Linked DNA regions of Homo sapiens: region 2 is linked to region 1. Evidence: fine-mapped expression QTL. A gene starts in region 1. The other region holds a variant in brackets. All regions are shown on one strand. Distances are from middle to middle. Region 1 holds the start of CDK5R1 (cyclin dependent kinase 5 regulatory subunit 1). Region 2 overlaps MYO1D (myosin ID).

What was found. PIP is the estimated chance that this variant, and not a neighbour inherited with it, causes the effect. A credible set is the group of variants that fine-mapping cannot tell apart.
Region 2: its variant is the best candidate, but not a certain one, in a credible set for the expression of CDK5R1 in unexposed skin (GTEx, PIP 0.59).

The regions. Positions count from the first base shown.
Region 1 is chr17:32,484,220-32,489,587 of GRCh38, forward strand. CDK5R1 (cyclin dependent kinase 5 regulatory subunit 1) reads left to right here and starts at 2,774. Exons shown (of 2, transcript NM_003885.3): 1 at 2,774-2,943; 2 at 3,257-5,368. The coding sequence starts at 3,402. The coding sequence ends at 4,325. RefSeq lists enhancers at 1,560-2,061, 3,301-3,860 and silencers at 2,134-2,663, 2,774-3,033, 3,124-3,413.
Region 2 is chr17:32,564,099-32,569,466 of GRCh38, forward strand. All of the region lies in intron 21 of MYO1D (myosin ID), which reads right to left. Among named protein-coding and RNA genes, the nearest start is that of CDK5R1, 80 kb to the left of the region's middle. The variant T/G (reference allele first, on the strand shown) is at 3,256.

The DNA.
Region 1 (5,368 bases):
GGGCTGCCAGTGCCATCCCATTCCTGCTGTGCTGCAACTGTGACTTTGCCTTGGGCAAGTGTGAGGAGGCTGGTGTTCTGCCGAGAGCTCTGTTTGAAGGTGCTAGGGAAAGGCTGGCTGGACAAAGGTGAGAAGACACAGGGTATGGCCTGGCTTGAAAAGGCCCATGCAGAGGCATGCTGCTGCAGAGTGGGAAGCAGGGTAGTGGGGTGAGCTTGGTCCGCCTCCCCGTGAATTGGAATAGCTAGAATTGAGATTGAGAGTTAAAGGTAACAGAGTGGGCCCAGGTTTTTCTAGGGGGTGGATTTTTCTTTTTTTAGCCGAAGTGTCACTCTGTCACCCAGGCTGGAATGCAGTGGCACAATCTCAGCTCACTGCAACCTCTGCCTCCCGGGTTCAAGCTATTCTCCTGCCTCAGCCTCCCGAGTAGCTGGGATTATAGGCACCCGCCACCACGCCCAGCTAATTTTTTTAGTAGAGACGGGTTTCACCATGTTGGCCAGGCTGGTCTCAAACTCCTGACCTCAGGTGATCCGCCCGCCTTGGCCTCTGAAACTGCTGGACACAGTGTGGCCATCACGCCTGGCCGGGGTGGATTATAGGCTTCAAAATTTGGACATATTTTGGGAAGTGGAAAACATTTAACCTTGGCTCAACACTAGAATCTGAAGGGGGGCACAGAGCCAACTCAGGAGCTAGAGGCTCCAAGTAAGGGCTGAGGAAAAGAGGCTGGGGTTCGGCTTTCCTTTGAGAAGGAAAAGGGACACTTGGTCAGGGTCTCGAAGCAAATCGTTTCTTCTGGCTTTTTTTTTTTTTTTTTTTTTTTTTTTGAGATGGAGTTTCGCTCTTGTTGCCCAGGCTGGAGTGCAATGGTGCAATCTCGGCCCACTGCAACCTCTGTCTCCCAGGTTCAAGCGATTCTCCTGCCTCAGCCTCCTGAGTAGCTGAGATTACAGGTGCCTGCCACCACGCCTGGCTAATTTTTTTTGTATTTTTAGTAGAGACGGGGTTTCACCATGTTGGCTAGGCTGGTCTCGAACTCCTGACCTCAGGTGATCCACCCGCCTCGGCCTCCCAAAATACTGGGATTACAAGCATGAGCCACTGCGTCGGCCTCTTCTGGCTTCTTACTGTTACATGCAGGAGGGTTGAGGACAGCTCCATTTGAAGAGCAGGTAGGCTTGTACACTGAGGAACATTCACAGGGAGGGGCGCACTGAGCTGGGGGCCTGCCTTCCTCTTCTGAGTTCCCATAACAGCTGTTGTGGATGTTCTGAAAGGCTGTGGACAAAGTAGCCCTCTGGGTACAGAGCAATGCATTTTCCACTGTATGCCTTGCCCCCCAAGGTTCCTAAAGCCTGGAATTCCTATTGACAGAAATCTGAGTGGCACATAAACAAAACCCAGCACTTTCTGCCTTGATTGCACCATTTTGAATGATGCCAGATTCCCTTTCTGTTCCCCCTAGGACAGTTGACAGGGCTGGTGAAAGCCTAGTCGGCTGGAGTGGTCAGGTAACTGGGTGGCATCCTCTCCTCTGGAGAGCCACTCCCTCATCTCTAGGTCCAGAGATAATCTGGATTAAGACAGGGCTTAAGTTTCCTGTTTCCCAGGTTTGTGGTCAGTTTTGACTCGATCTCCAGAAACAAGGTAAAATAGTAAATGAACAACAGCCTTTGTGAAGGATCTGGATTCACATCTGACAGGAACAGCTTTCAGAAACAGAATTTTACTCAATTTCGCTAGCATCAAGTTCTCAAATTATACATACTTAGAATTGAAAACGTTTAAGAGGGTCAGAAAGCTGGCCGGAGGGGCAGTTGCTTCAGCTTTAATATGACAAATAAGAGGGCGAGTGGGAACTTAGAGGTCATATTTGTGACGGGCTCAGGCTTGGCTACGGGCCACGCTTCTCTGGCTTGGATCTCTGAGGCCCACTTCGGCCGCGGTCATCTACCCATGATGAGGGAACGGAGGCCCCGGAGGGGTGGCCAGAACCGATTGGACTGTCCACTCGAGGTGCGCGTGGCACTCGGGAGGCCTCAGTAAAGGCGTCGCCTCTCCCCGCCCAGGGCCTTCTTCCCCGCGCTCCCTGGCTGCTTTCCACAGGGACGGGGATGTCAGGTGGAAGGAGGGAGCTCCGGACCCTGGCCTCGGCGGAGGGCTCCTCACCAGGCCAGGGCGGCAGCCTCAGAGAGGGCGGGCCGCGCGCTGCCAGGGCAGGGACTCGGCCGAGAGTGCCCCCGCGGCCGGCAGCTGCGGGCGCCGCGGCGGGAACAAAGGCAGCACGTGTCTGGGCGGGACGCGGGCGGGGTCGGCCCTCGGCTCCGCCCTGCTCGGCGCCCGCCCCGCGTCGGCAGAGTTGGGTTGCGCGGGCGCCGAGGACTCTCCGGCGGCCGGGCTGCTGTTGGGCGGCGGCGCGGAGCGGGCGGCGAGCTGTGCGGGAGGGGCGGCCCCGAGGGGCGGGGCGGGCCGACGCCGCGTGTCCCGCCGCAGCCGCGGAGTCCGGCTCCTAGATGGGGCCCGGCGCGTAGAGGTGCCTCCCGCTCGTTGCCGCGTCCTACCCGCACCGTGCGCGGCTCGAGCTGAGGACACCAACGGCCGCGACTCCCCGGCGAGACCAGGCCGGAGCGTGGACGGCGCGCGCGCCCCGCGAGGGAGGGCGCTGAGGCGCGCGCCGGAAGCGGGAGCGGGAGCGGGAGCGCGGCGGCGGCGGCGAAGGTGCGGGCGGCCGAGCGGGGGGCGGGGCTGCGGTGCCTGCAGAACCTTGGACAGAAGCTCCCTAGCTGCCGCCGCCGCCGCCGCCGCCGTCGCCGCCGCCGAGCGCGAGCCCAGCCGATCCCCGCCGAGCGCCCCCGAGCGCCGCCGAGCGCCGGGACCGCGGCGGCGGGGCCGCGGCGCGCATTGCGGAGGGCGCGGAGCGCAGGAGCTGCCGCCTGCCGGGTAAGCCTGCGCTGGGCGGCCGTCCTTGGCCCTGGGGAGCGGAGACCGGGGTCGCGCCCGTGCGGGGTGTCCAGGCGGGGGTCCTCGGCCGCCTCCGTCGGCGACCGGGCCCCTCCCGGCTGCGCCTGGGGACCGCAGCGGCGGCGGCGGGCGGGGGTGCTGCAGTGGAGGCGGCGAGGCTGCGTCGCGGGGGCGCGGGTAGGGCCCGGGACTGGGGCGGCGGGGTGCGCCGAGGCGCGGGGCGGAGGGGCGCAGGGGCGCAGGGGCGCGGCGCGGAGCCCAGCCTGGCGCTAAGAACCATCTTGTTTTCCAGGCAGATCCAAGGGGGCAGCACGCTTCCCGGGAGCGCCCCCGCCTCCTCTCCGGGGCCGCCGCAGGCTCGGTGAGCGGTTTTATCCCTCCGGCCGGCAGGCTGGGCGCGCAGGGGCGCGAGCCCCCGCCCGGCGCGCAGCAGCACCATGGGCACGGTGCTGTCCCTGTCTCCCAGCTACCGGAAGGCCACGCTGTTTGAGGATGGCGCGGCCACCGTGGGCCACTATACGGCCGTACAGAACAGCAAGAACGCCAAGGACAAGAACCTGAAGCGCCACTCCATCATCTCCGTGCTGCCTTGGAAGAGAATCGTGGCCGTGTCGGCCAAGAAGAAGAACTCCAAGAAGGTGCAGCCCAACAGCAGCTACCAGAACAACATCACGCACCTCAACAATGAGAACCTGAAGAAGTCGCTGTCGTGCGCCAACCTGTCCACATTCGCCCAGCCCCCACCGGCCCAGCCGCCTGCACCCCCGGCCAGCCAGCTCTCGGGTTCCCAGACCGGGGGCTCCTCCTCAGTCAAGAAAGCCCCTCACCCTGCCGTCACCTCCGCAGGGACGCCCAAACGGGTCATCGTCCAGGCGTCCACCAGTGAGCTGCTTCGCTGCCTGGGTGAGTTTCTCTGCCGCCGGTGCTACCGCCTGAAGCACCTGTCCCCCACGGACCCCGTGCTCTGGCTGCGCAGCGTGGACCGCTCGCTGCTTCTGCAGGGCTGGCAGGACCAGGGCTTCATCACGCCGGCCAACGTGGTCTTCCTCTACATGCTCTGCAGGGATGTTATCTCCTCCGAGGTGGGCTCGGATCACGAGCTCCAGGCCGTCCTGCTGACATGCCTGTACCTCTCCTACTCCTACATGGGCAACGAGATCTCCTACCCGCTCAAGCCCTTCCTGGTGGAGAGCTGCAAGGAGGCCTTTTGGGACCGTTGCCTCTCTGTCATCAACCTCATGAGCTCAAAGATGCTGCAGATAAATGCCGACCCACACTACTTCACACAGGTCTTCTCCGACCTGAAGAACGAGAGCGGCCAGGAGGACAAGAAGCGGCTCCTCCTAGGCCTGGATCGGTGAGCACTGTAGCCTGCGTCATGGCTCAAGGATTCAATGCATTTTTAAGAATTTATTATTAAATCAGTTTTGTGTACAGTATGTGTCTAGCAAAGCCACCAAGGGCCTCACCTTTCCCACAGTCTCTCCCTGGGGTTTTTTTCATCCCTGCCAAGAACTCTGGGCACTTTTGAACTCACGAGCCTTGCGCAAAACCCAGAAGATGTATTCAGAGCCACCCAGGCCACTGACCTCCCACTTTGGGGAACTCAAAGGACTGACCTGCCCCTGCCGCCTGTGCCCTTGCTGGGTCCAGGGTAGGCAAGGCTGCCGGCTGCACCCTGTATGGAGCTAGAGAGGGGCCTCTGGCTGCCTGGCCCAGGGAGGAATTGGGGTTTCTGGTTGGAGGCCCTTTTCTGGCTCCTGTGTGGAGTTATTCACTCTCCCAGAGGCTCCTGGAGCCAGCCACCCTAACTGAGCTGCCAGTGGGGTCGTGAGGCAAGATCCCCGCCACCCGGGGACATCTTCAATCTAGGCGAGGCGAAGCTGAGCGGGTCTAGTGGAAAGATTGTGTCTGGTCGTTTGACCACACACCGCCCTGATTTGCTGTTTTCTTTTTTTAGGGAGAAGGGCTTTTCTTTAGTGGAGAAATGGAACTCGCCCCCCTACCCCCTTGTCTGCTGCTCCCAGCCACGTTGGTGGTATTGGCCGATGAGCTGGTTTGACTCATTAATTTCTCTCAATTTGGGTCCCAGCTAAAGAGGTGGGGTGAAGCTGGGGACAGCTTTCCTGGGTGAGTTTTTCTTTTGAATAATGTAGTGCAGTCACCCTGTGGCAAATGCCAGGACAGCTGCAGGTGCCCATTAGCAACGCCTGCCTTCTGGGCAAGGTGAGGGATGCCATACCTTGAGACCAAGCCGGTGCCCACCTAAGGGCTAAGGCCTCTTGCTGGTGCACATGACATTTGTCCTGCAGAGCTGGGGGGAAGGCGATGTGGTGACCCCACCCCCACCCGTTAATTTAAAGCTGTTTCTAAACAGTTGAGTTTCTTCTAAAGAGGAAGCCTT
Region 2 (5,368 bases), 80 kb after region 1:
CTGCTTTGCAATAGTGGCTTCCAAAGACCCTTGTGGAGTCCCTGGCCTGCAGGTGCTGGAGCCCTGCCTGGGGGCAGTAAGCAGAGCCCAGGCTAACCTGGGAATGGATCCTCATGCCCTCTGCTTCTTCCCCTTCATGAGTTGATCCATATGGGCTGAGAAGGGGGCTGTCAACTAGTAGGCAGATTTTCTTTACCCTCCCTCTGAAGTTTCTAATTACTCACACAAGTCTGGATGTGAAGCTGACATCAGCTTCCTTCACAGTGTCACCTGGGAAAATCTTGGTCAGCATGTGGTCCCTTTCCTTTCTAAGCCGACACCCTCTACTTAGCAATTATGAAGTGGCTTTACAGTCAGTGCTGGAGCATAGTGTACAGCCCAGGGTGAACCCTACACCATCCCTTCCCTTAACCAGAGCCTACTGACCTACCTGCTTTCCTTCCTTCCCTCTTTCGGTATTTATTTAGTGTTTCCTGTGCTAGGTGCTAGGGATGAGTCAAATATATTTATGACATGGTCCCTGTTCTCAATGAACTTGTGGTTTAATGGGGGAGATGGACTAAGTAGACAGACGACTACAAAGTAAGTGGCAAAGCAGCAGTGAGCACAAGACATAACAAAGAGCTGGAAGCCCTTCCACATAGCTGCACCTTTAACCCTGACTCTAAGGCATCAACTGAGGCTCCAAGCCATGTGGTGTTTACAGGGAAGAGTATAGGAACAAATCCCCATCAGGCCTGTCTGCATTTTGTGGTCACTGTTACAAAGGTCAATCTGTGTTAATTCTAGAAACAGCATACCCCCCATCTCACAATTACGTTAAACAGTCCATCACCCTTGATGATAACTCTTCCTGCTTCATAATGCATATAACTAGACATCATTTCATTATAAAGAAAAAGAAAATACTTTTTTTCTTTTTGGAGATGGCTTCTTGCTCTGTCACCCAGGCTGGAGTGTAGTGGCGCAATCTCAGCTCACTGCAACCTCTGCCTCCCAGGTTCAAGCGATTCTCTTGCCTCAGCTTCTGGAGTAGCTGGGACTACAGGTGTTCACCACCACATCCAGCTAATTTTTGTATTTTTAGTACAGACAGGGTTTCACCATGTTGGCCAGACTGGCCTCCAACTTCTGACCTCAGGTGATCCTCCTGCCTCGGCCTCCCAAAGTGCTGGGATTATAGGCGTGAGCCACCACACCCAGCCTGAAGAAAATACCTTCATGTGCAAAAACTGCTCCTTTAAGATAGGGTTCTTCCTTGTAGCAACGAAAGGCACCCTGGCACTGCTCACTTTTATGATGCAGCTCCCACCTCCATCCCCCTAAAACCTCACCTCTGGACCCTGGAGATATGACCTGGTGAAAGTGGCTGCTCAGATTCTGGAATCTATTCAGCCCTTAGCCCTCGATCATCTGCTTTGTCACCTCTGCTCTCAGGAGTGGCCAGTCTTCATATGGCCGGTGACATAATTGCTAAGTAGGCTGCTGTGAATGCCCATCTACTCAGGACTGAACTGAGCTAGGTCATGGCCATCAGTAAACATTATCAAGTAATGACTTTGTTACCACTGGCATCTGAACAGGAAGTCCAGATCTGAAGGTCAATTCCACACACCTGTTTCAGAGTGTGTGTGTTTTTTTTTTGAGACAGAGTCTCCATCTGTGGCTCAGGCTGGAGTGCAGTGGCGAGATCTTGCCTCACTGCAACCCCTCCCAGGTTCAAGTGATTCTCCTGCCTCAGCCTCCCAAGTAGCTGGGACTACAGGTGCGTGCCACCAGGTGTGGCTAATTTTTTTTTGTATTTTTCATAGAAACAGGGTTTCGCCATGTTGGCCAGGCTGGTCTTGAACTCCTGACCTCAGGCGATCCACCCACCTCAGCCTCCCAAAGTGCTGGGATTACAGATGTGAGCCACCGCACCCGGCCTTCAGAGTGTGTTTCTAGCTAAGATTGAATATATGCAGTGATAAGAAATCCATCTACAGCTTCCTATATATTCATTCAACACATAGTTCCTGTGCTTCTAGACGGGGAGGTAGACACAGTCCTCCCCTCATGTGCTCCTTATAACCCCCTGAAAGTGACAGATGTTAAATAAAAAAAAAGTATACGAAAAGGAAGTACAACTGTGGTGTTATGAAGGAGAAAACCAGAGTGCTAGAAGACGACACTAACATGAGGACTTAGACTTGTTTGAGGAGAGGGTCAGGAAAAGGCTTCCTTGGGAAAGTAGCATTTAAGCTGAAACCTGGAAGATGCACGGGGGCTTGGGGAAGAGGTTAGGAACAGCATTCCTGGCACAGGGCACGGCACCGGAGCTGTCTCTGAGGTAGGCAGTGAGGGGCTTTCCTTGAGGAAGCCAAGGAAAGCTGCTGTGGCCTGCAGGTGAGCCTGCAGGTAAGTGCAGGAAAATGCAGAGTGAGGAGGTGGGGCCACATCGTGTAGGCTGTGGGAGTGACCTCAGACCTGATCTTGAGTAGCCACTGAAGGAGGGGAGTGATATGATTGGAAAGTCAACTGAGTCCAACCACAGTTGGGAAAACATTTTTTGACTCGTGTCATTGGAACCAAATAGAATCAATTAATAGTAGTAACATGACAGTAGTTACGGTTGTTGTCCGAATCACAGGGAGTGCTAGAACTTAATTAGTTATCTGTTTGAAGCCTCAAACACAAACTTCCAAAGCTTTAAAAAGCAACTTGTAAAAGCTTCCCTCTTTGGTCTTTCTCTTTTAAGCTTCTTTTTAACCAAATCAGGCAGGCACTGTGTACCAAGCCTCTGAGACACATCTGTGTGATCTTTCCAACAGAGGAATGGGAGCCTCTGCATCCAAGGTGGGGAGCGGCAGAGCTGGGACTGAGGGCAGAACGGTTGATTCCAAAGCCCGTGCTCCATCCATGTTCACAGAATGGAGGAAATCAAAAAGGAGCAGATGATGCGGCTGCAGGCTTCTGGGATATTAACAGGACAAAGCTACTGAGAAAACAGGGGTTTCTGGCTGAAGGTAGAGGATGCTGGGAAAGGGCAACAAATGAAGGGGTGGCAGAAGTCAATAAATTGAGCAGGAAATGAAAAAAGAAGAGCTGAATTAGAGCATTTGTCTAAGCATCCTGAGGACAGGAACCTTGTTTATCCTGTTCATGGCTATATCCCTAGGGCAGAGAACACGACTCAGCAAGTGACATGTGCTCAAGAAATAGATGCTGACTCAGCGAATGAATGTATTTAAACAGAACCTATTCTGTAATAATCAC[T/G]ATGACAACAGTTAATAAAATCAGCCACCGTCAACTAAGCACCTACATGTGCCACACCTGTGCTGGGGGTTTGGCTAGGTTAACACAAACCCAACCACCAGGTACAGCAGGTGTTGTCGTCACAATCCTGGGAAGGAAATAAGGTACACAAAGGTTAAGTAACGTCTGATGTCTCTTGTCTAGTAAGTAGCAGGGATGGACTTAAACACAGACCAATCTCACTCCAAACCTTGTACTCTTTCTCTGCCCTGTGCTGTGTTGCTTCTCAAGCATGAACATGCTAAGAACTTGGGCTTCAGTCATGGCCAGTCCCTTCAGGATGACTTGGCCACTGTAGGGTCTCATTCTTTCATCATTCTTAGTCATCAAGTCCAAGTAGCCCTGGAAGAAGGGAGCATATGTGCACAGAAGGACACCTACAGGAAGCATCTTACCAAAAGTGCCTTGCATCATTGAGGCTGTGTCCGGGTAGTTCAGTGGTGCTAACGAGGCCACTGCTACAGGTTCAGTCTCCACGTCCAATTAACTCAGCTTTGTGCCTTGGAGACTACACCCCAATCCATCTCAGAGGTGCATTCAGTAGTTTCAGGAAAGATGGCTGGGAAGTGTGGGTGGCTTGGTGAAACCTATTTGCAAGACTAGCAAAACAATGCAAAAGGTATGCTGCAATAATGGTGAGCGGCAGCTTCCTAGAAAAAGGTCACGCAAACTTCTGCACCAAACCTGGGTGATCAGAGCTCCTCTGCAACATTAAGTCCTTTTTCCCAAAAGAGTCTTGAGATTTTTTCCCCCAGGTATTTATCAGAATCCTCTTTATCTTTCTGCGTTATTACAAAAAAAAAAAAAAAAGGCTGGTGTCAGGCAGCTAGCATTATTTCTGAAAATTACTGAGAACTTAAAAGACATTCAGAACATCTATGCAACTTGACACAGTTCAAAAAATTGTCATTGGAAACAGAGACAATCTTATAACCAACATTTAGGCAAGTCCATGTTTAGAATATGGTTAGTTTTCAAGGCAAGTATGTTTCATTCTACTTCTGTCTGTATGGAGAGATTCCGTCTCTAGTCTCATCCCTTTGCAAACTGTTTTTCTCATGGCTGCTGGAGTTATCTTTCCAGGACACATATCTGATTCATTCATTTGCTTTATATAACCTATCAACCCCCTTTGCACAGCTGTATAAGTCAGGTGTTTGTGGGACTTATCATCTATCTGGGACACTCTTGAGAGTTAAAGGACGCAGCTCTATTGATGATTATGTTGGAGCAACAGACATAAACCTTGGGAAACTGGGATCTGTGGTCACCTCACATGGAATAGAAGGTCCTTGGCAATCTGAACTGAACCCACATTTTCTGACTCTTCCCCACCCAGATCAGCCTCTGAGAGGGATCTGCCCTTTCCGTGCTTTCTGTCCCAGACCTCAGCCCTTCCAGCTTCTCTTCTGGAAGAGTGAGTGCACACACCTCCAGAGCAGCTCGAAGTGCAGTTGCACCTACTCACTGGAATTACAGGTCCAGCCTCTATGCTCCTATGCATCTTGACTGGACACAGTCATCATTTGTTTTTATGTGTATTGCCCTCTCTAGACTGGGAACTCCTTGAGGTTGGGGGGTTTAAGTCATCCTTGTGGCCACCCCCAATATGTAGAGGAGTGTTTTGTACATCCTTCGTGTTCAGAAACTGTCAGTTGATAATAAATAAATCCCACGACTAGATAATCTGGTGCCTTTTAAATAAATACATTGAGGTCTGTGTTATAAATAGATGTTTATGACTAAAATGTTTTATGGCAGAGCTGCTGACTGTCCTGGTGTCATAGAAACTTCAGCTGATTTCCATGTGAGTGTATGGAAGAAGTAATATATGAGCAATCTATTTTCTCTGGGTGAAGACAGCAATGGGCATATTTCACTTCCATTGTTAATTGGGGATAGTATTGCTCTAGGCCAAGACACTAAGTCAGCTAAGCGCTGACTAATCGAGGAAGTGTTTGCAGGTGCACTGGGCCCAAGGACACACAGGCCTCTTGTACTTTAACTTACATGTGGTGTTCTCAGACCTGCATGACCAATTCTGCAATAGTATCTGCCACAGAAAAGACACTGT